Linked DNA regions of Homo sapiens: regions 1, 2 and 3 are each reported to be linked to region 4. The links are microRNA targets in miRTarBase. Many come from high-throughput screens and were not tested one by one. Region 4 holds a microRNA gene; each other region holds the end of a gene's coding sequence.
The links. Region 4 holds the annotated microRNA hsa-miR-6780b-5p (UGGGGAAGGCUUGGCAGGGAAGA, at 2,606-2,628, opposite strand). A microRNA usually pairs through its seed, bases 2 to 8, with sites in the 3' UTR of a target mRNA and lowers its output. Matches are read on the target gene's strand: a 7mer-m8 pairs with bases 2 to 8, a 7mer-A1 pairs with bases 2 to 7 and ends in A, and an 8mer does both.

Region 1: miRTarBase lists HSPB6 as a target of hsa-miR-6780b-5p. Seed matches in the 3' UTR shown: 7mer-m8 at 3,663-3,669 and 7mer-A1 at 3,323-3,329.
Region 2: miRTarBase lists TAGLN2 as a target of hsa-miR-6780b-5p. Seed matches in the 3' UTR shown: 8mer at 4,687-4,694 and 7mer-m8 at 4,576-4,582.
Region 3: the mRNA of BBC3 is a reported target of hsa-miR-6780b-5p. Seed matches in the 3' UTR shown: 7mer-m8 at 3,990-3,996.

What each region holds. Positions count from the first base shown.
Region 1 is chr19:35,751,321-35,756,503 of GRCh38, forward strand. HSPB6 (heat shock protein family B (small) member 6) reads right to left here. Exons shown (of 3, transcript NM_144617.3): 2 at 4,452-4,574; 3 at 3,246-4,363. The coding sequence ends at 4,202. LIN37 (lin-37 DREAM MuvB core complex component) reads left to right here. Exons shown (of 9, transcript NM_019104.3): 2 at 856-931; 3 at 1,114-1,164; 4 at 1,484-1,513; 5 at 1,594-1,679; 6 at 1,767-1,933; 7 at 2,697-2,837; 8 at 2,926-2,999; 9 at 3,073-3,199. The coding sequence ends at 3,154. Among named protein-coding and RNA genes, the nearest start is that of HSPB6, 3.1 kb to the right of the region's middle.
Region 2 is chr1:159,913,914-159,919,096 of GRCh38, forward strand. TAGLN2 (transgelin 2) reads right to left here. Exons shown (of 5, transcript NM_003564.3): 5 at 4,198-5,028. The coding sequence ends at 4,887. Among named protein-coding and RNA genes, the nearest start is that of TAGLN2, 9.0 kb to the right of the region's middle. RefSeq lists an enhancer at 4,004-4,893.
Region 3 is chr19:47,217,381-47,222,563 of GRCh38, forward strand. BBC3 (BCL2 binding component 3) reads right to left here. Exons shown (of 4, transcript NM_014417.5): 4 at 3,444-4,538. The coding sequence ends at 4,422. Among named protein-coding and RNA genes, the nearest start is that of MIR3190, 7.0 kb to the right of the region's middle. RefSeq lists a silencer at 2,639-2,839.
Region 4 is chr6:43,431,800-43,437,174 of GRCh38, reverse strand. It overlaps MIR6780B (microRNA 6780b), which reads right to left and starts at 2,633; the gene lies at 2,555-2,633. ABCC10 (ATP binding cassette subfamily C member 10) reads right to left here. Exons shown (of 22, transcript NM_001198934.2): 3 at 3,815-5,033; 4 at 2,327-2,554; 5 at 1,268-1,424; 6 at 928-1,037.

The sequences.
Region 1 (5,183 bases), not on the chromosome of region 4:
ACAAAACAGAAATACATTAATTAATTAAAATAAAATTATACCACTGCCTCAACCAGATTCTGCACTCAGGTTGAGCCTCTGTCTCATAACTTCAGCTTTGGAACCAGACAGCCTGGGTTCAAATCATCAGCTCTGCAATTTCTTTGCTGTGTGCCTTTGAGCACGTGGCCTAACATCTCTGTGCCTCAGTTTCATCATCTTTAAAATAGGAATAAAAATCATATCTATCTGAGCTGGGCTCTATGGCATGTGCCTATAGCCCCAGCTACTTGGGAGGCTGAGACAGCAGGACCGCTTGAGCCCAGGAGTTCAAAACCGGACAACATCGTGATATCCTTTTTCAAGAAAAAAAAAAATCACATCTACCTCTAAGGGTTATTGTGATAATTCAGTGGGTTATTATTTGTAATATATAGCATATTTAAACCTTGCCACTGGGACAGGCACAGTGGCTCACACCTGTAATCCCAGCACTTTGGGAAGCCGAGATGGCTCACCTGAATCTAGGAGTTCAAGACCAGCTTGGTCAATATCATTAAGACTCCATCTCTATACAATTTTTTTGTAATAAATTTATATTATATTAAAACACATTTTTTTAAAACCCAAAAGGCTCATAAGGTAAGGTGATTGGCCTTACCTCCTGTCACAGAGCAATCACGTGGGACAGCTCTGGAACTCAGAGCTCTGGGCATCACTCCAGCCATCTCTGCCTGTTGCACCCTTTCAGGCTGCCTGGGCCTGGCTCTGAGATTGGCCAGGGCAGAGGACACGCACGCCCTTCCCTGGCCCAGTCAGCTGCCCACCTAGCTGGGGCCTGGGAGCTGACTCCTGCTGGGTCCTCTCTTGCCCCAGAGCTGGAGATGGCCAAAGCCCGGAACCAACTGGATGCTGTCTTGCAGTGTCTGCTGGAGAAGAGTCACATGGACAGGTAGGCCAGCGTGGGGTCACAGGGCCGGGCACCCTGGTGGGTTGGGCCCTCTGATCCTGGGTGGATTGGGTGGGACCCCACAGGCTGACTTGGGGAGGAAGGTGCTTAATGGGGAGGCTGCTCGGTGCCTTCCTTCTCTGGGGCCCTGGAACCCTGAGCTGAGAGATCTCTTCTGCCTCTAGGGAGCGTCTGGATGAGGAAGCTGGGAAAACACCCTCAGACACCCACAATAAGTGAGTTTTTCTGATTGGATTTGGAGTTGAGAGTTCGTGGTTGGTAACTTCTTTCCTTATCCAAGCCCTGACCGCTCAGCCCAGCGCTACCTCCATCGTGGCCCGGACCACTCCACCTGTACAAAGACCCTGTGGCAGGAGAAGCTTAGGTCCCCCCGTGGTTGCCACCTAGACCCCCATGGGTATGGGTGGGACAAAAGGCCCAAGAGGCAAGTGGGGTTCATGTGAGCATCTCAGGTTTGATACCAGTATCCCCAGGGTGCCCTCTGCAGGGTTTTGCACAGGCGTTTGTCTGAGGGTCAACTGTCTTTCCCCACAGGGACTGCTCCATCGCAGCCACTGGCAAAAGGTAAGGTGGCAGGGTCCCAGCCAGCTGACTAGAGGCTCCCAGCTCCTACCCCAGTCCTGACACTCCCTCTCCCTACGCAGGCCATCTGCCCGCTTCCCCCACCAGCGGAGGAAGAAGAGGAGGGAGATGGATGATGGGCTGGCTGAGGGAGGGCCGCAGCGATCCAGTGAGTAGACAGTGGCCCTAGAGGGTCGGTAAGGAGCCAAGGGCCTATGCAAGGATGCTCACACACCTCCCATCCCCACCTTCCCAGACACATATGTGATCAAGCTGTTCGACCGGAGCGTGGACTTGGCCCAGTTCAGCGAGAACACGCCACTGTACCCAATCTGCCGCGCCTGGATGCGCAACAGCCCCTCTGTGCGCGAGCGTGAATGCTCTCCCAGCTCACCCCTGCCCCCGCTGCCTGAGGATGAGGAGGTGGGATGGGTAGTGGGTCCCAGCCCAGCAGCCTGGTGCCAGGGCAGTGGGTGGATAGGCTCAAAGGATCCTGCCCCTAAGCTAGTGGGATAGACAGACACAGGTCCCTCACGTGAATCCTGGATCAGGCTAGGCACACAGATGTGCACTCTTAGGTTGGGGTGTGGATCAGAGTCCCTAGGGAAGACATACGTAACCACCTGGCCTGGGAGACAGGGAACAGGGTTACCCTGGACAGTTAGATGTGGACCTCCAAGATCAGGGGTTCCCAAGAGCCGAGGGGCTAGACAAGGGTCCTTAGTACAGACAGAAGTGGCCACCAGGCCTTGAGGAGCAGGGGCTGGGCAGGAATGGATGGGAGTCTATAAGCCATCTGACCCAGCGGGGTAGACAAGGGTCCCCAGGACAGACATATAGGACCCTTCAGACATATAGGACTGTCAGAAATGGACAGAGCTTCCTAGGTGGCACAGACGTGACCCCCTAGACAGGATTCCCTGAGGCAGGCAGACGCGACTCCCTGGGCTGACAGGTGTAGATGGAGTCTCTGGGCTGGATAGGAGAAGACAGGGGTCCCTGGGGCAGGCACACTTGACCCGCTGGCTGGTTGAGGTGTCTGCCCTTCATACATGCCTCCTGTCTGAGTCCCTTAGCGAGCCCCTCATGCCATTTGTTGCTGGGAAAGGCAGGAGGGATGAATGTGGATTCCCAGCCCCTCTGCTTTGACTCTCTTGGGCCTGGCATGGGGCCCTTGTGTCCCCAGGGCTCAGAGGTAACCAACAGCAAGAGTCGTGATGTGTACAAGCTGCCGCCACCCACACCCCCGGGGCCACCCGGAGATGCCTGCAGATCCCGCATCCCATCTCCACTGCAGCCTGAGATGCAGGGCACCCCTGACGATGAGGTGAGTATGCCAGGCTGGCCCAGGGTTATGGGGCACATGCGGTAGGGCTCAGGAATGGCCACTCAACCTGGCCTGTCTGTCCATGCAGCCCTCTGAGCCCGAGCCCTCACCCTCCACACTCATCTATCGCAACATGCAGCGCTGGAAACGCATCCGCCAGAGGTGAGCGTCCCCCAGCCTGCTTGCCCCTCGTAGGGCCCTTTGCAACTGCTGAGTCTCCCCTCTGCCTCCCCAGGTGGAAGGAGGCCTCTCATCGGAACCAGCTTCGTTACTCAGAAAGCATGAAGATCCTACGAGAGATGTACGAACGACAGTGATGTTCCCAGGTCCCCCCACACCAGTAAACATCCCCCAGCTCCACACTGGTGTCTGCTCCGGTCCCTCCTTCCTGGCCCAGGCACAAAGCAGTTGGCAGAGCTCTAGCACATTTATTGGGAGAGTAAGCCTGGGAAAGACTAAGGGAGTGGTGGCAGGGAGAAAGGCTGTGGGGAATCAGAGCGGGTGCTCAGTTGGGTCTTGAAGGAGAAGAGGAGGAGGGTGGGAGGTGGGTTGCCGAGGATATCTGGTTGAAGACTTGGGGGTCAAGACAAAGGGACTTAGGGGGATGGGGTCTGGTTAGAGTTGGGGAGGGGGCCTAGGACATCCGTGCAGAGTCTGGGGAGGTTGGGGTGGGAGAGTCTGTACAGTTTGGTGTTGGGTGTTCTAGTTGGCCTGGTGTCCAAGAGTTGGGGCAGTCGAAAAAGGGTTCCAGAGTCTGGTGTGGCTGGCTGGGGTTTCACGGCAGAAAATGGGCTGGAGGGGGCAGTTGTAGACTGTCTGGTTGCAGGGGAAGGATCGGGTCTTGGGAACCAGGCCTGGATGGTCTGGAGTGGGAGGTCTGTGCAGTCCAGGACGTTTGGGGGGTGGGGGGATTGTGCCTGACTGGCCTGGGGTTGGGGGAGGGCTGTCTACACCATAATTTGGTGTCAAAATAGGGAAGGGATGGAAATGTAGTACCCGGATGTCTTTGTAGAGGACTCAGAAGGAAGTAGAGGAGGGGTCTTAAGTGGGGCTATATGCCAAGAAAGTGGGTCGGTGGGGCTGAGACTGTCGGCTGAGGGTTAGGGTAGTGCTGGTAGGGTCTGGAAGCCGGGGAGTTGTCGGTGTGGGGTCGGAAAGCTGGAGGGGGTGTGAGAGCGAGGGTGTCAGTGGAAGGGTCTATGTTATCAAGGCAGTGTCCAGGATGGAGGTCAGGGCAGAATCCAGGAGTGGGTGAGAGGACAGTCCTTGGCGCACTCGGGACATCTGGCTGGGCGGAGTCAGATCGGCTTTAATAGAGGGAGCCTGAGGAGGCTCCCGGGGTGCGGGCGCGGCCCAGCCCCCTCCTACTTGGCTGCGGCTGGCGGTGGGGCCTGGGCCGACGCTGGTGCGGCCTGGATGGACAGGACGCCCTCGGGGGACAGCGCGGACGTCACGGCAGCCGGATCCACGCCAGGCGGCAGGCGGTAGCGACGGTGGAACTCGCGCGCGACGAATCCGTGCTCATCCTGGAGGGGAGGGAGGCTTGAGCGGCCCCGCCCCTCCGGCCCGGCGGCGAGCGTACCCGCTCCAGCCCCGCCCCACGCCGCGGCTCACCGGGCGCTCCTCGTGGCGCGCGTGCACCTCCACGTGTTCGCCCACCACCTTGACAGCAATTTCCTCCGGCGAGAAGTGCTTCACGTCTAGCAGCACCGAAAAGTGGCCGGGGTCCGTCGGCACCTGAGCGCAGCGGGCGCGGGCGGGACTGTCATTGGGCTGGGCCAGGCTCCAGGACCCACCCAGGGAGACCCCACCCCCGTCGGTTCCGTGCCGCGGCTCACTCTGGCCTCCGGAGTTGAGCAGTCAGCTCTCCTACTGGGAGTCACCCAGGACCTCTTCACCCTGAACAACAGGGATACGCCCTCCCCCTGTAATATCTGGGATTGCCCTCTCCCCCGCAGTGATGAGGCTCCCTTCCCCTGCAAGGTCAGGAACCTCTGCCCTCCCCCGGTGTCAGCGAATCCGAAGTCATCGTGCCCCCCAGGGCACTGATTCCCCAGCTCCCTCCTCAGAGCCCCGGGTCCCTTCTCCGCCAGCCCCGCCAAACTCGCCAAGATGCCCCTTTCCCCGTCTCCAGGGTCCTCTGCCTACTCTCCCACTCGAGTCACGGGACCTCGGCAGCTACTGGTAGCCTTCCCCCACTTCAGAGTGGCCGGGAACCCTTCCTCAAGTCGCAGGGCCCTCTCCCCTCCTCTTCTGGAGATATCGGGCCACCGCACACAGTCTCTCAACTCTTCCCCGAGACTAAGAACATTCCTTCCCCTCAGGAGTCACTGCCCGCCTCCTTTT
Region 2 (5,183 bases), not on the chromosome of region 4:
CACACGCATATGAATAGGCTGCAGAGAGCTACGCTTGTTACCCACAGGTGAGCCAAACTGGGTGGAGCATCTGAAACCTTCTTCCTTCTCCCCCTCTTCCTCCTCCTCTCTGCCTCCCTTCCCCAACTCTCCTTTCCATTGGCCATCATGGGCCAAGCCTACTTTCCCTCCACCTCCACAGTGATTTTCCACTTCCAGGCTGAAGGCAAGGAGCAAATGAACCCAAGCTGGCTCCTACCTCTTCCTCCTGCCCTCCTCCCATTTTTTTCCCCCAAATCCTCAAATCACCTTCCATGTGTCCAGAGCATGCAATCCACCCTCCAACCTCCTCTCCTCTATCTGTAGGAAATGCAGCTTCTTGGGTTTTTATTTTTTGGAAATGAATAATCTGGAAGCATTGGAAGCAGAGACATGAGCTGGGCTGTATCTCAGATATGATGAAAGGCTGGGTTGCTAGGCCCTTGGGCTGGCTGGGCACTGTGTTGCCAAGCCAGGGGGCTGAGGAGCATGAGGGTGGTGTCATGCTCACTCATTCATTCAACAAATATTTATCCAGCACCTACAACATGCCAACCACTACTCTACATGAGCAAAACCAACAAAAGCCTGCCTTTGTGTAGTTTACATTCTATGGGTGGGGACAGAAAATAAATAAGTAAAATATATTGGGTGTCAGGTGGTGATAAAAGAAAGCAGGAATGGAGCACGGGGTCCAGGCTGAGGGTGAAGTGTGCAGTTTTAAATGAGGTGATCAGGGAAGATGACGTCTAAACAAAAACCTGAAGGAGATAAAGGAGCAAGTGAGGGCAGCACCTGGAAGGAGATTGTTCCAGGCGGCAGGAGAAGCCCTGCAAGTGCAGAGTGTTAGGAGACACCTCTGTAGCGCGTTGAACAATGAGAACACGTAGACAGAGAGGGGAACAAGACATACCAGGGTCTGTGGTCGGGGAAGGGGTGTGGCGAGGGGAGGGTGAGCATCAGGACAAACAGTTAATGTATGCGGGGCTTAAAACCTAGGTGATGGGTTGATAGGTGGAGCAAACCACCAGGGCACACGTATACCTATGCAACAAACCTGCATGTCCAGCACCTGTATCCCAGAGCTTAAAGTTAAAAAAAAAAAAAAAGAAAGAAAGAAAGAAAGAGTTGAACAATGAGAACACATGGACACAGGGAGGGAAACATCACATACCGGGGCCTGTTGTGGAGGTGGGAGGCTGGGGGAGAGATAGCGTTAGGAGAAATGCCTAATGTAAATGACGAGCTGATAGGTGCAGCAAACTAACATGGCCCATGTATACCTATGTAACAAACCTGCACGTTATGCACATGTACCCTAGAACTTAAAGTATAATAATTAATAATAATAATAATAAAGAAAAATGTAAGAAAGAGAGAGAGACACCACTGTAGACAGCCACACAGAATAAGGTGTTGGGAGATGGCAAGAAAAGGCAGAACCATACACAGGCTGGTGCCTAGTCTGGGCCCCAGGGCCTGAAGTGGGGTCAGAGATGAGAGAAGCCAAGTTAAGGATGAAATTGTAACCTCAGGTGAGACAAAATGCTAGAAAGCAGACAAACAGAAAGCTGGAAAATGTTGAGATGCCACTGGAGGCCGGCTCCAGAAGGAAGCAGCTGAGTCTGCAGTTAGATGAATTAAGGGAACATTGAGATTCCTCACAAGGCTTGGGTGGTGGTGGGTGCAGCCAGAAGAAGGTGAGCCCAATGGCTGAGCCCCTCTCAAATACAGCTGGTGTCTCCCTTGAAAATAAGCTGTTCCAGGTAAAGGGGATAGGGCCACTGAAAGCATCTTGGCCCGTGTTCAACAGGACAGTGGTGAAGGGCATGAAACTGCTGGGCATCAGCTCCCTCTCAGCCCAGGGTCCATACACAAATGTTCCACCTTTTATTCCCCACACTTCCATTTCCTGAGCACTATGTGCTAGCATTCCCCATGCAAAGTGCTTTCCAGGGTTCATCTAATCCTCACGGCAACTTCACGAGGAAGGAATTATCATCTTCAGCTTACAGATGAGGAGCATTGCCCTGCCACCCACCACCACCTCTGTCCCCTAGTCCCTTGACAGCTTCACTTCTTGCTGAGCCTAGAGCTGCACAGGCTCAGCCAGGTTCAGAGCCAGCTTGATTGGATGCAAATCCCTGCTTCTCCCTTAATTGCTTTGTGGCCCTGGGCACATTCCTTGGCCCTTCTGAGACCAGTATCCTCATCTAAAGACAAAATGGGGAACACATTACAGTAATATCCACCTCCTGGGCGTTTGTGAGAATCTTCTGGGAGAAGGCAGTGGTTCTCAGCGCTGGCACTGTAACAAATGGCATTTCTCAGAGTTGTGAGGCGTGTGGCCAATAATTTATAGCTATAAATAGTTAAACCAGGGAAGGTGGCAAACGGCTTGTTGTTTTAGTATACATAGCGAATTCAATGTTTTCTCTGCAATGACATCACTCTCCCTGACTAGCATTCCACAAAGCCTTCCTGAATGAGAGATAAAGGATCTAATCCCCTGGGAATTTGCCCATAGGCTGCAGCCTATCTTATCTGTGCCACAGCCTGTGGGAGTGCAGCAAGCAAGCAAATACAGTCTCTCCCGAGGTGTGGTGTGGCAAGGCTAAGCGTGGTGTGGGGATGAGGCTGACAGCCATGGCTATGAAGAATTGGCATTGGGCCTCGCCCCTAGTGGGTGCTTTTTGGAAGAGGGAGCCTCAGAGAAGCAGGGGAACAAAAGGGGAGAGAACAAAAGCTCTGGATACAAACCTGTTTCCCTCAGGCACAGTGTTGTGGCTTTCTCCTCCTAGGAGACAGAGATACCCTCAGGTAGAAAAGGGGAAAGGGGCAAGGAAGGCCAGGCCTCTGGGTGAGGCTGATGGGGCTGGAACTTAATGTCAGACTGGCCCAGCGTCCCTCAAATTCCCCCTGGGGAGACACAGAGTCTGACTGGGAAGCCTTGGGGTAAAGGTAACACCTAGTGGTTAGAAACTATGGGTGGGGCTCCCAGCACTTTGGGAGGCTGAGGCTGGGGAGTTGGGAGATGGCAAGAAAAGGCAGAGCCATGAGGTCAGGCAGATCGCTTGAGCTCAGGGGTTCGAGACCAGGCTGGCCAACATGGTGAAACCCCATCTCTATAAAAAATACAAAAAATAGCCAGGCACGGTGGCTCACATCTGTAATCCCAGCACTTTGGGAGGCCGAGGCTGGCAGATCACCTGAGGTCGGGAGTTCAAGACCAGCCTGACCAACGTGGAAAAACCCCGTCTCTACTAAAAATACAAAAAAATTAGCCAGGCGTGGTGGCACATGCCTGTAATCCCAGCTACTCAGGAGGCTGAGGCAGGAGAATCGCTTGAACCTGGGAGGCGGAGGTCGCAGTGAGCCGAGATCATGCCACTGCACTCCAGCCTGGAGAACAAGAGCGATCATGCTACTGCACTACAGCCTGGGTGACAAAGCAAGACTCTGTCTCAAAAAAAAAAAGAAAAGAAAAAAAAAGAAACTGTGGGTGGAACACTCATGCCTCGGTCAAGGATAGGTGCTAGAGACAACCTGACCCAAAATTGATGATCATGGCCCAAGGCCACACCCTAGAAAGGAAGTTTTAGTCTCTCCCAGGCACTTAGTTCACAGGTGCTTAGGATCAATCAACACGGCTTCTTCCCTCCAGCGACCACCACCAACTCACTCCTGCTCATTCCCCAGCTCTCCACGTTTCCTCACCACTGCAACCCCCACCCTCACCACTCCAACACAGACCACCTCACCCCAAGCCCGCCTGAGGGACCTCTCACCTGGAGACAGCTTCACTTGCCAGGACTGATGGCTGTGCCAGCAGCCAGCCCCACCCTCTCAGTGACTGAGAAGCTGTTCCAACTGTAGAGGCAGACCCAGCCAAAGGCAGCAGGCAGGATTAGCCAATTCCATTGACTAGAAAGGGCCTTACTTCCCTGTGGACACTGCCTACATAGTCTGCATTCAGCTGTGAGGTCCTGTCCCCTCTCAATTCCAACCTACACCACCCCCCAAAGCAAGTGAGAATGAGGATGGGGAGGAAACTCAAGACAGGGGTTAGCACTGCAACCTCTCATCTCTGCCCTCCTTCCTGTATCACTCACTGCACTTTGCCCAGTATTCCTCCCTTCCCCACAGTGGCACAGTGGCCCCAGACACAGCCAGAGTCCATTCAAAAATGACAAATTCTTTATTTAAATCAACAAACTCATCTTCCTCAAGCCCCAGACCATGGTAGGCAGCCCTCCCTCTCCATCCCCTCACCCCACCCCTTAGCCACAGTGAAGGGAATGGAAAATGAGAAGCCACGAGGGCCCCTGCCAGGGAAGGCTGCCCCAGATGTGTGGTGAGCACAGTCAGTGCAGCTGTGGCTGGGGCAGCAGCTGCCACAGGCTCCTCCCTATAAATTAAGTTCCTGCAGCCACAGCTGTGGGAGAAGCATACTTGTAGAAGCAAGGCCAGTCCAGCATCAGAAGGCAGAGGCAGCATCAGTGACTCCCAGCCATGGAATGAACGGAGGACACAGAGCTCAGAGACAGAACAGGCCAGGGGGAAGAAGGAGAGACAGAATAGGCCAGGGCATGGCGGTGAGGGACTGAGGCCCCTAAATTTTGGTCCCAGGGGAAAGGAAGAGGCCAGTTGGTCCAGTTTTGATGGCTATGGGGAAGGGAATGTATTAGTAAGCATGGGGGAGAGGATGCCAGCAGGCACCTCAGAGGTGACAGGACAGGCTGAACCCCCCACCCTGACAGAAAGGAGCTTGAGAGCTCTGGGGCTCTCTGGGAATGTCACTGCTAAAATATATATCTACATATATATTAACCATTCGTGGGAGGGCAGGGGCAAGGCCTGGGGTGGGATCAGAGGATCTGGCGTGGCATCCCGTAGCCAGTCATGCCTGCCTGAGACGCCCCGCGGTTGGTGCCCATCTGTAACCCGATCACGTTCTTGCCCTCTTGCAGCTGGTTATCCGAGAAGTTCCGAGGATTCTCCTTGGATTTCCTGGGTGACAAGGGAGTGGTGGTTAGAGGAGATCACAGGCTGCCCTAGTAAATCCCTTCCTTGGACAGAGCACAGGCTTTGCTGTTGGCTCAAGGGCTGGTGCCAGCTCTGCCCTCGAGAGCCATAAGCTCTCTGAAGCCACCTCCTCATCTGTC
Region 3 (5,183 bases), not on the chromosome of region 4:
GAGCTGGGGTTTCACCGTGTTGGTCAGGCTGGTCTCGAACTGCTGACCTCATGATCCGCCTGCCTTGGCCTCCCAAAGTACTGGGATTACAGGCATGAGCCACTGCGCCTGGCTGCCCGGCCGTATTTTTATTGTTTTTTTTGTTTTTGTTTTTTTGTTTTTTTTGAGACGGAGTCTCACTCTGTAGCCCAGGCTGGAGTGCAGTAGCACAATCTCTGCTCACTACAACCTCCACCTGCCGGGTTCAAGCGATTCTCCTGCCTCAGCCTCCTGAGTAGCTGGGACTACAGGCGCATGCCACCACGCCTGGCTAATTTTTGTATTTTTAGTAGAGATGGGGTTTCACTATGTTGGCCAGGCTGGTCTCAAACTCCTGACCTCGGGCTCCCAAAATTTTGGGATTACAGGTGTGAGCCACCTGGCCTGGCCACCACATGGGACTATTTACCCTACCAACTGCTGTTGGATACTTAGATGGTTTTGTGCATTGCCAGTACTTGGATACTTGTATGCACCCGTGTTCCTCTAAGGGGGACGCCCACAAAAGCTATTGCTGCCACAAGGTATGTGCATTCTCATCTTGACACCATGTCTTAGTCTGTTTTGTCTTGCTGTAACGGAATTGCACAGACTAGGAAACGTGTAATGAACAGAAATCTGTCTGGGCGCGCTGGCTCACACCTGTAATCCCAGCCTTTTGAGAGGCCAAGGCAGGTGGATCACTTGAGATCAGTAGTTCAAGACCAGCCTGGCCAACATGGTGAAACCCCATTTCTACAAAAAATTAGCCCGGCATGTTGGGGCATGCTTGTAATCCCAGCTACTAGAGAAGCTGAGGCAGGAGAATCGCTTGAACCCAGGATGCAGAGGATGCAGTGAACTGAGATTGTGCCACTGCACTCCAGCTTGCGAGACAGAGTGAGATTCTGTGGGAGACAGAGCGAGACTCCCTCTCAAAAAAAAAAAAAAAAAAAAAAAGAGAAATCTATGGGCTCACAAATCTGAAGGTTGAAAAGTCCCAGATGGTGGGGCTGGTATTTGGTGAGGGCCTTCCGGCTTCCTTGTAACATAGCGGAAGGCATCTCATCTGAGACAGAGGGGTGAACTCATTCTTTATAAGGAATCCATTCCCGTGAAAACTCACTCACTTCCATGGTCATGGCATTAGTGCATTTCTGAGAGCAGAGCCCTGGTGACGTAATTATCTCTTAAATGTCTCACTTCTAAAATCTGTAGCACTGCAGGTTAAATTTCCAACCCAAGAACTTTGGGGGACACATTCGTATCCCAACACACGGTTTTATCAAATGCTTCTCCAAAGTGATTGTTGCCAGTTACCACACCCTGGCCATCCAGATGGGCCATTTCCCCTAGTGTCCCTTTAGCAGCAAGGACAGTTGGGAAAGGGTGGAGCTGGGACTGACCCTGTGTCTGTAAATATTATATAATTATATACCCTGCTTCAGAGTCCCCCTCTGTTGCCCTGGAGTGCAGTGGCATGATCATAGTTCACTGTAGCTTCCAACTCCTGGGCTCAAGCTATGATCCCCCTGCCTCATCCTCCTGAGTAGTGGGTACTATAGGCATGTGCCACCATGCCCAGCGAATTAAAAAAATTATTTTTGTGTGTGTGGAGATGGAGTCTTGCTATGTTTCTAGGCTGTTCTTTTTTTTTTTTTTTGAGACGGAGTCTCGCTCTGTCGCCCAGGCCGGACTGCGGACTGCAGTGGCGCAATCTCGGCTCACTGCAAGCTCCGCTTCCCAGGTTCACGCCATTCTCCTGCCTCAGCCTCCCGAGTAGCTGGGACTACAGGCGCCCGCCACCGCGCCCGGCTAATTTTTTGTATTTTTAGTAGAGACGGGGTTTCACCTTGTTAGCCATGATGGTCTCGATCTCCTGACCTCATGATCCACCCGCCTCGGCCTCCCAAAGTGCTGGGATTACAGGTGTGAGCCACCACACCTGGCCTATACCTTGCTTCTTTCTCTTTCTTTCCTTTTTTTTTTTTTTCTGGAGACAGTCTCCCTCTGTCGCCCAGGCTGGCGTACAGTGGTGCAATCTCGGCTCACTTGCAACCTCTGCCTCCCGGGTTCAAGGGATTCTCCTGTCTCAGCCTCTCGAGTAGTTGGGACTACAGGCTTGCATCGCCACACCTGGCTAATTTTTGTATTTTTAGTAGAGACAGGGTTTCACCATGTTGGCCAAGCTGGTCTCGAACTCCTGATCTCAGGTGATTCGCCCACCTTGGCCTCCCAAAGTGTTGGGATTATGCCCTTCCTTCCTTCCTTCCAGACAGGGTCTTGCTCTGTCACCTAGGCTAGAATGCAATGGCAGGATCTTGGCTCGCTGTAACCTTTATCTCCTAGGTTCAAGCAATTCTCCTGCTTCAGCCTCTTCAGTAGCTGGGATTACAGACACTCGCTACCACGCTCAGCTAATTTTTGTATTTTTAGTAGAGACGGGGTTTCGCCATGTTGGTCAGGCTCGTCTCGATCTCCTGACCTCAGGTGATCTGCCTACCTCCCTGCTTCTCATTGAGGTCTCTGCCAGTCAGGTATCAGCACAGGGAAAGGGCTCAAGGGCAGTGTGTGGCCATGGCCCTGTTTGCAGAAGATGGCAGTAGGAGCAACCCTTTCTACATTTACTCAACACAGCCGCTTATGACCAGCCTGGTTAGGCCTCAGGGCAGTGTGCGGAGACTCACTGTGATCTTAGCTCCAGGTGCTCCTCCAGCTGGAGAGGCAGCCTACGGCTGATCACAGTGCAAGGCCAGATGTCCCTTTCTGTCTCTGTGACGGCAGAAACGAGGTCTGTCTCATGACTCTATCCCAAGCACTTGTCACAGTGGTGCCTCTGAATATGTTACGGGTCATTCACTCATCCATTAAATATCAAGCGCCCCTACAACACCTCATGGGGACTTCACTTTTTATTTTGTTTTTGAGACAGGGTCTCACCCTGTCACCCAAGCTTGAGTGCAGTGGCTTGATCATCGCTCACTGCAGCCTCCAATTCCTGGGCTCAAGTGATCCTCCTGCCTCAGCCTCCTGAGTAGCTGGGACTACAGACACACACCACCATGCCTGGCTAATTTTTTTTATTTTTTTATTTTTGTAGAGACGGAGTTTCATCGTGTTGCCCAGGATGGTCTTGAACTCCTGGGTTCAAGAGATCTACCCACCTCGGCCTCTCAAAGTGCTGGGATTACAGGCATGAGCCATGGCACCAGGCCAAGCTTCACTTTTACCGGGAATGGGGATGATGAAGGCTAGGAGCGTCCCGGTCTGGAGAAGCCCAGGCCCCTTAGCCTTTCTTCTGATGGAGCCACAACTGCCAGGGCCCACCTCTCCCACCCACTCACAAGCAGGGCTCACAGAGCAGAGCCCCCGATCAGAAGCCTCTCCAAGGCCAGGCTGCAGGGAAGGCAAGCAGAAAGAGTATCCACTGTTCCAATCTGATTTTATTGAAAAGGAAACATACAAAAATCATGTACAAAAAAAATTAACCAAACATGTACAGAAAATTCATTCCGGTATCTACAGCAGCGCATATACAGTATCTTACAGGCTGGGCCATCCCTCCCCACTCCCAGACTCCTCCCTCTTCCGAGATTTCCCCCCCTCCCTGACTCCCCGTCTTCCCCCCAGCGCTTGGCCCTGGGGACTAAGGCTGGGGCGGCTTCAGCCAAAATCTCCCACCCCCCAAATGAATGCCAGTGGTCACACGTGCTCTCTCTAAACCTATGCAATGGGATTGATGGGGCGGGGGGCGGTCACGGGCAGAGCACAGGATTCACAGTCTGGGCCCCTCCTGGCCACCCCCTGATGAAGGTGAGGCAGGCATGCCCACCACCCGCCGGCTGGCTCAGGGAAGATGGCTGGGCGCCGGGCTGGAGCAACCGGCAAACGAGCCCCACTCTCTGGCTCCAGGAGGCTAGTGGTCACGTTTGGCTCATTTGCTCTTCACGGGCCCCCTCCCAGGAGGAGGGGGGGAAGCACCAGGGGCCTGAGGCCAGGCCCAGAGTGAAGGAGCACCGAGAGGAGAGCCCCCCCCTCCCAGTGTCACCCCTGCAGCTGGAACGGGCACCAGCACAACAGCCTTTCCTGAGATGGTGGTGGGCGGCAGAGGCGGGCGGCTCAGTCCCCACCCCCTCGGTCACCGCCACCTTCCGATGCTGAGTCCATCAGCCGTCCCTCTCCTGGCTTCTTGGCCAGGGACCCAGGAGTCCGCATCTCCGTCAGTGCACCCCAGGCTGGGCTGGGGCTGGAGTGGCTGCCCCGGCCCGCCCCCGGGACAGGCAGGGCTGGGAGTCCAGTATGCTACATGGTGCAGAGAAAGTCCCCCGCGCTGGCCAGGGTGTCAGGAGGTGGGAGGGGCCTGCCCCCCGAGTCCCTGACGTCCACCGGGCGGGTGCAGGCACCTAATTGGGCTCCATCTCGGGGGCTCTGTGGCCCCTGGGTAAGGGCAGGAGTCCCATGATGAGATTGTACAGGACCCTCCAGGGTGAGGGGCGGTGCCGCTGCTGCTCCTCTTGTCTCTGGGGAAAAGAGAGAGAAGGGGCAGTTAGCAGGGGACTGAGTATGGTGATGGGAGTGGGGATGGTCAGCTCCAGGGGCAGCGAGGCGACAGTCTCGCCCACCCTATTCCAGCTCCTCCCCCCGCCTGGGCTAATGTCCATGTCTCGGAGGTCACATCCTCATCCAGGACATGAGACCTGGAGGCAGAGGACAAACACGGAATGCCTTCAGCAGAGAGCTGGGCACCAAGCGAGTGCGTGGCACATTAGCTGTGACTGCCCCGTCTCTGTTGTACATTTGAGAAAGACATCCCCCAAGGGGCTGAAGGATGGACTGCAACCTATCCTGCCCCTCCCTACAGGGCTGGCAAGATGAGGAGAAAGGAGCAGGGTGCCCACAGTCTTGGCAGTTCTAGAACAATCTGTGGAAGGAGGAGAACTGGGAAGAGCCCCCCCCATTGCAGAGGCTTCAACAGAAGCACCTCTAGGCAACGCCGAGTGAAACCCCTGCCCCCTCTCCAGTGGCAGGATGAAAACAAGGTGGTCTCTAGGACCCTCTCAGCTCCAACATCCTAGGAAGTGGGCAGGCAGGAGGCTAGGTCCTAGGAAAGGCTCCCGACTGGTAAAAATTAAAGGCAATACTAAAAAGAGTACAGAGGCCCGGCG
Region 4 (5,375 bases):
TCTGCTCAGTGGAGGGTGTGTCCACAGAGAGAAGAGAACCAGGCAAATACAGGGAGAGAGGCACACAGAAGCAGAGAGCTCTGCGAGTTGAGGCCTGGTTCTGGGCTGTTTCTAAGATCCAGCTGCGTTCCTGCCTTTGGATTCTGCAATGTATCTCTACATCCTTATTATAAATTCTTGTTTGCTTAAGCTAGCTCTAGTGTGTTTCTGTAACTTATACCCAAAAAAGCCCCAACTAACACATTAGCAAAATTCCTTTGTACAAATCTAGCCTTGTCTTGCCTGAACTAAGAGGAAAAACAAAACATACAGCCCAAGCCAGAAACGTGAGCCAAATGTGGTGGAGGCAATTCAGCCACCACCAGAGAATGCCGGGTTGAGCTGTGGGGCACAGGGTTGGACAAAGGTCAGGAGAGAGTGAAAACTCAGAACAGGAGGTGAACAGGAGTTGGCTTATTGCCAGGAATGCCCCATTTTAAGTTCTTTGTATGCTGTAGCATGAGTCACAGGGTGTGATTGCTTTTCACCAGCCTAAACAGAGGATCCCCATTTGCAAAATATTTCTTGGAAGCACTTGCTGGGCCTCTCCCCCAGATCCCCAATCTGGGGGAGATGCTACATAAACCCCAGGGCCTGTTCTGAATGCTGCAGCTTCTGAGGGACATGGAGAGACAAGCACACCCATTGGTCTGGACTGGATGGATACAAGCTGCCTAAAGACCAGAGAGAGGTGCAACTATTCTGAGATTCAGATGTGAGGTGTCATCTCCTCATGATTAGAACCTGCTCACCAAATGCCTATCCCTCCTGCAGCAATTAGAGCTGCAGAGCCATCAGCTATGATTGGCTCGGTCACTGCTTCTCTGACATGAGTTCCCATCTCTCTCGTTAGTCTGAGGACTCTCCCAGGGTGTCTGTCCAACAAACCTTTTTCACTTCGAGATGACTGATGAAGGTCTCCAGGCTGGTTCCAACTGGGTCCCAGGAGAACAAGGCTCCATGCAGCTCCAATACTGTAGATGGCTCTGCAGGGGGATCTGAACAGAGAAGCCACTTGATTTGGGCTCCTAATCTACCACAATCTGTTTGGGGAGGGTAAATCATGTAATTCACTTGCCAGCCCCATATCTACCTGCCCAAAGCTAAATGAGTCTGTTTTGGATTCCGCTCTCTCTAAGCCCTCTTGGTGACATCTATGCGCAGCACCCAAGTGGCTCCACTTCCCTCCTCACCCTGTGCCAGGTTCTGCCCACTAGCTTCCCATTACCTGGGCTGTAGTAGGCCTGGGGGTTGTGGTTTGGAAGGTCGAGGAAAAGCTGGATCCGGTCCAAGGACACTTTGGCCTCCAGGAGACCATTGATCACCCAAGGGAAGTTGTTGAGAGGAAGAATGAGCATTCGCACCAGTGCCAGGGCCGTGAACACCTGAGTGAGGTGGGTGCAGGGTGAAGCCCCAGGAGTTATCTAAGGGCCTGTTTCTATGGGAAGCCCTGTGGACAGGTCTACGGAGGGAAGAACTGGGCAATGACAGAACTGAAGGGCTGGCTGGCCAATCCTGGGATCAGATGTGGCAGAGATGGTCACTTAAAGAATCCTAGAAATTCCAATGTTCCTCAAGGGATTCAGGTTGCATTTTTTTTTTTCTTGACGAGTCTTGCTCTGTCACCTAAGCTGGAGTGCAGTGGCATAATCTCGGCTCACTGCAACTTCCACCTCCAGGGTTCAAGTGATTCTCCTACCCTAGCCTCCTGAGTAGCTGGGATCACAGGCATGCATCACCACACCTGGTTAATTTTTATATTTTTAGTAGAGACAAGGTTTCACCATGTTGGTCAGGCTGGTCTCGAACTCCTGACATCAGGTGATCCGCCTGCCTTGGCCTCCCAAAGTGCTGGAATTACAGGTGTGAGCCACCACGCCTGGCCAAGGTTGCATCTTTTTAACTAGGCAGGCCTAGCTCATTTTGAGTCTTTTTTTTAGAATTTCCAAGTAGCAACATCACCTGGCCTTGGCTAGACCCAGGATTGCATCATACATTTTTTTCCTAAGGCCATTAGAACGAGGATGAAGAGACCTAACCCCAAGCCTGGAACTGAATAGAAGCTGGAGTGAAAGGTAGAGGAGAGGAAAGAAAGGAACTCCTTCACAGAGGGGAGGGTTATATATCCAAGGCCCCCACAAAAAGGTTTCTTCAGTTTTCCCTTGGTTGAGAGATGAGGCAGTCAGGGATCCCTCCCTCCTTCTCAGCCAGCACTGAGGGCCCAAGCCTCTGTCTTCACTTCGCTGAAGTCTCCTTGATGCTGGTCCCCTTCCTTCCTGGTCCTCACCTTGGTGGCAGTGAGCTGGTGCCCCATGAGGACATAGGTGATGAAGATAACGATGGAGATGACAACCGGTAGGGCAGCCCACAGGTATACACAGGCCGCATCCAGGTATTTGATGACCCGGAGTCGCCCCAGCTCTCGAGCCCGGCAGGCCTCTACTCGGGCTCCCAGTGCCTGCTCCCACCCGCAGAACTTGATGACCCGAATGCCACTCAGCAGCTCTGTCACAAGCTAGGGAAAGGAGACAAGGGAGAGGCGTGAAGTGGAGGCACTGCTCATGTGTCTTCCCTGCCAAGCCTTCCCCAGGCTGCTGGCAGAATGTTCAGTACTCTAAGCTCCCAGATACTCTGCACTGCCCTAGTCTTGGTTTTCTTCCTCACCTCAGTACTTTCTGGAAATCCTGCCCTTCAAATCCTTTTCAGCCCTGGGTTGCTTCCCCTCCCAGTCTCTTACTTCTCCATTTGCTCCAGCTGGGGACAGCTTGGAGTGGGAATTCCCCACCTTCCTAGGAGGAGTGGTGGAAGGTGGAGCCAGGTCACCACAGTGGAGTAAAAGCTCTCCTCCCATTAGATGAGGGACAAAGGGCTATCTCCCAAAACCAAAAGATGTGGGCTTCGGGGGCTGGCCCCCCAGTTCCGGCCCCCGGCTTGAGTGGCACAGAAACTATTCCTGTAGAAGTACACAGGCATAAGAGGCCACACTACAGCCCAGGGTCAAACAGGCTAATGGGCCCAGGGAAGATGGGCAAGGGCCAAAACTCCTCGTCTGTAGCTGTCACAGGTAGGGGAAAATGCCTCATGCCATAACCATCTATCAACCTCCCTTCCCTCCAGGAGCACTCTGAGCTGTTCCACTAAGGGTCGACAACTATGCTGTATGAACCCCCAGGACTGCCATCCCCTTTGTGAAGGTACCCACAATCACTGCAGAACCCAGAGCTCTGCAGATTCAGCCAAACCCTAAACACCTGGAGTTGACCCAGGCAGGAAAGTGACCTATTCCCTTCCCCTCAGCCTACCCAAAGAGGCAGCTGAGGTTCTCCTAGGTCTCTACATGCAGCCATGGGGTGGTCTGTGCCCTAGATAAGGAGGTTGGAGACTTGGGTCCCAGCTCTGGCCCTAAAGACCTGTTTGGAGCCAGACAGATGACTTCCTACCTCCCAGGGTGGCCACATGTATTCAGAGCTTACTTTGTGACTGGCACTACACTAAGCATTATCTCATGAGATCCTTACAACTCTACAAGGTAAGCTACTACTATTCTCACTTTACAGATGAGGAAGGGGAAGCCCAAATAGGTTAAGTGACTTGTCTGAAGTGATTGAACCAGTAAGTGTAGAGCCAGGATTTGAACCCAGGTCTACCTTTCTCCAGTCTCAGCTCTTAACTTTGAGGTCACTCTCACTCCCTCAGGTAGTGTGCATGGGAAGACCTGGGGACCTGGGCTGGGTGGGGTCTCCAGATAGCTGAGGGACCCCAAGTACCCGCTCACCTTAACCCGCGCATCCTTGTGCTGTAGCATTTCCTGGTTGCTGGCCATGATGCGGGTGGCAATCACTTTGTTGACGGGTACCAGCAGCAGTGCCAAGATGAGACCACCCACGAAGGCCACGCCTACCTGCTGGTACAGCAGGTAGAGGGTGATGGCCAGTTGCAGGGGCAGGCCCCAGGCTTCATGGAAGCTCCCAGCAAAGTTAAGCAGCCGTTCAGAGTCAGTGCCTAGTAGGTTCAGGGCCTCCCCAGTAGGAGGGCGGCTGGGCCCCAGCTGTAAAGCCTTGCAGTACAGGATGTTCAGCACAGCCCCCCGTGCCTGAAGTGTTACCTTATATACCTCATACCCATACTGATTCTGCAGCACAGCACCCAGCACAGCCCCACCGGCTAGCCCCAGAGCATAGAGCAGGCCGTGGCTTAGTGGCTCCTGCCCCTCTTCCAGGAAGCCCACCAGTAGGGAGAGCAACAGGGGCCCTGAGAATCCCAACATGGTCCCCACCAGCTTCAGCAGTCCAAGTGCCAGATAGCACCGTCCAAAGGCCCCATACAAGGCCCTCCACAGCCGTGCCCCCTCCTGCCAGTGTGCCTGGAAGACACGAGCCAGGTAGGTTGGCTGCAGTCTGTGGGGGAGGCGGCAAATGTCCTGAGGCTGCCGGAGCTCTCCACAGGCCCCACGGGCCAGCAAGGGTGCCAGCCAGGCATAGGAAAAGCGTGACAGCCAACTCTCCCCATCTTCAGCCACCTCAGGTTCTTGATCCTCGGGCAGGAGGGGCTCCTGAGCCCAGGGTTCTCGTGGTCCCCCAGGAGCTGCCCATCCCAGTGCATAGGCCAAGAGTGCAGCCAGCTGCAGGATGAGCAAGCATAGGCGGGCCATGGGCCCTGGGAGAAGTGGGGGCAGAAGTGTGCCTCGCTGGCAATGCCACAACACGGTCAGCACTAGGGCTGGAGCTGGCAGCAAGGCTACCAGGGCCAAGGCCAAGGGACCCCGGGAGTGGCCATGAGGGGAATGTGCCAACACCCACAGGGCCAGGCTGTGGCTGATCCAGGCCACAGCTGCCACGCACCCTGCCAACACCTCTAGCCCTATGGGTCCTGGGCCTGCCCCTGGTGGCAAAGCAACTGGAAGAAGGTCTAGCAGCGGGAAGACGGAAAGCAGGAAGGAAGCTGCAAGTCGGAGGCGCCATCCAGGACTGCAGGGTAGGATGTAATCTGGACTCCTGGGGACAAGGGGGAAGACAAGGAGGCACATCGTGGCTGACTCAGGAGCCAGACATACCCCTCACCTCCAATAATTCACTTACCTAAGGAATCAACTCCCTTCCTGCCTTGCACATCTTATCCCTACTCCACTTTACCTCAGAACCCAGGGTCTTTTCTCCCAGGAAGTCTTCCCAGATGAACCTAACTCATTTTCTGACCAACTGAGCTAACCGGCCACCTGAACCTAACTCATTTTCTAAACTACCCACACCATTTCTGATTCATGTTTTTTTTTAAACCACAGACATTAACAATTTTGAGGTAAGATTGTACTTAACATGAAGACTAACTAGGAAAAA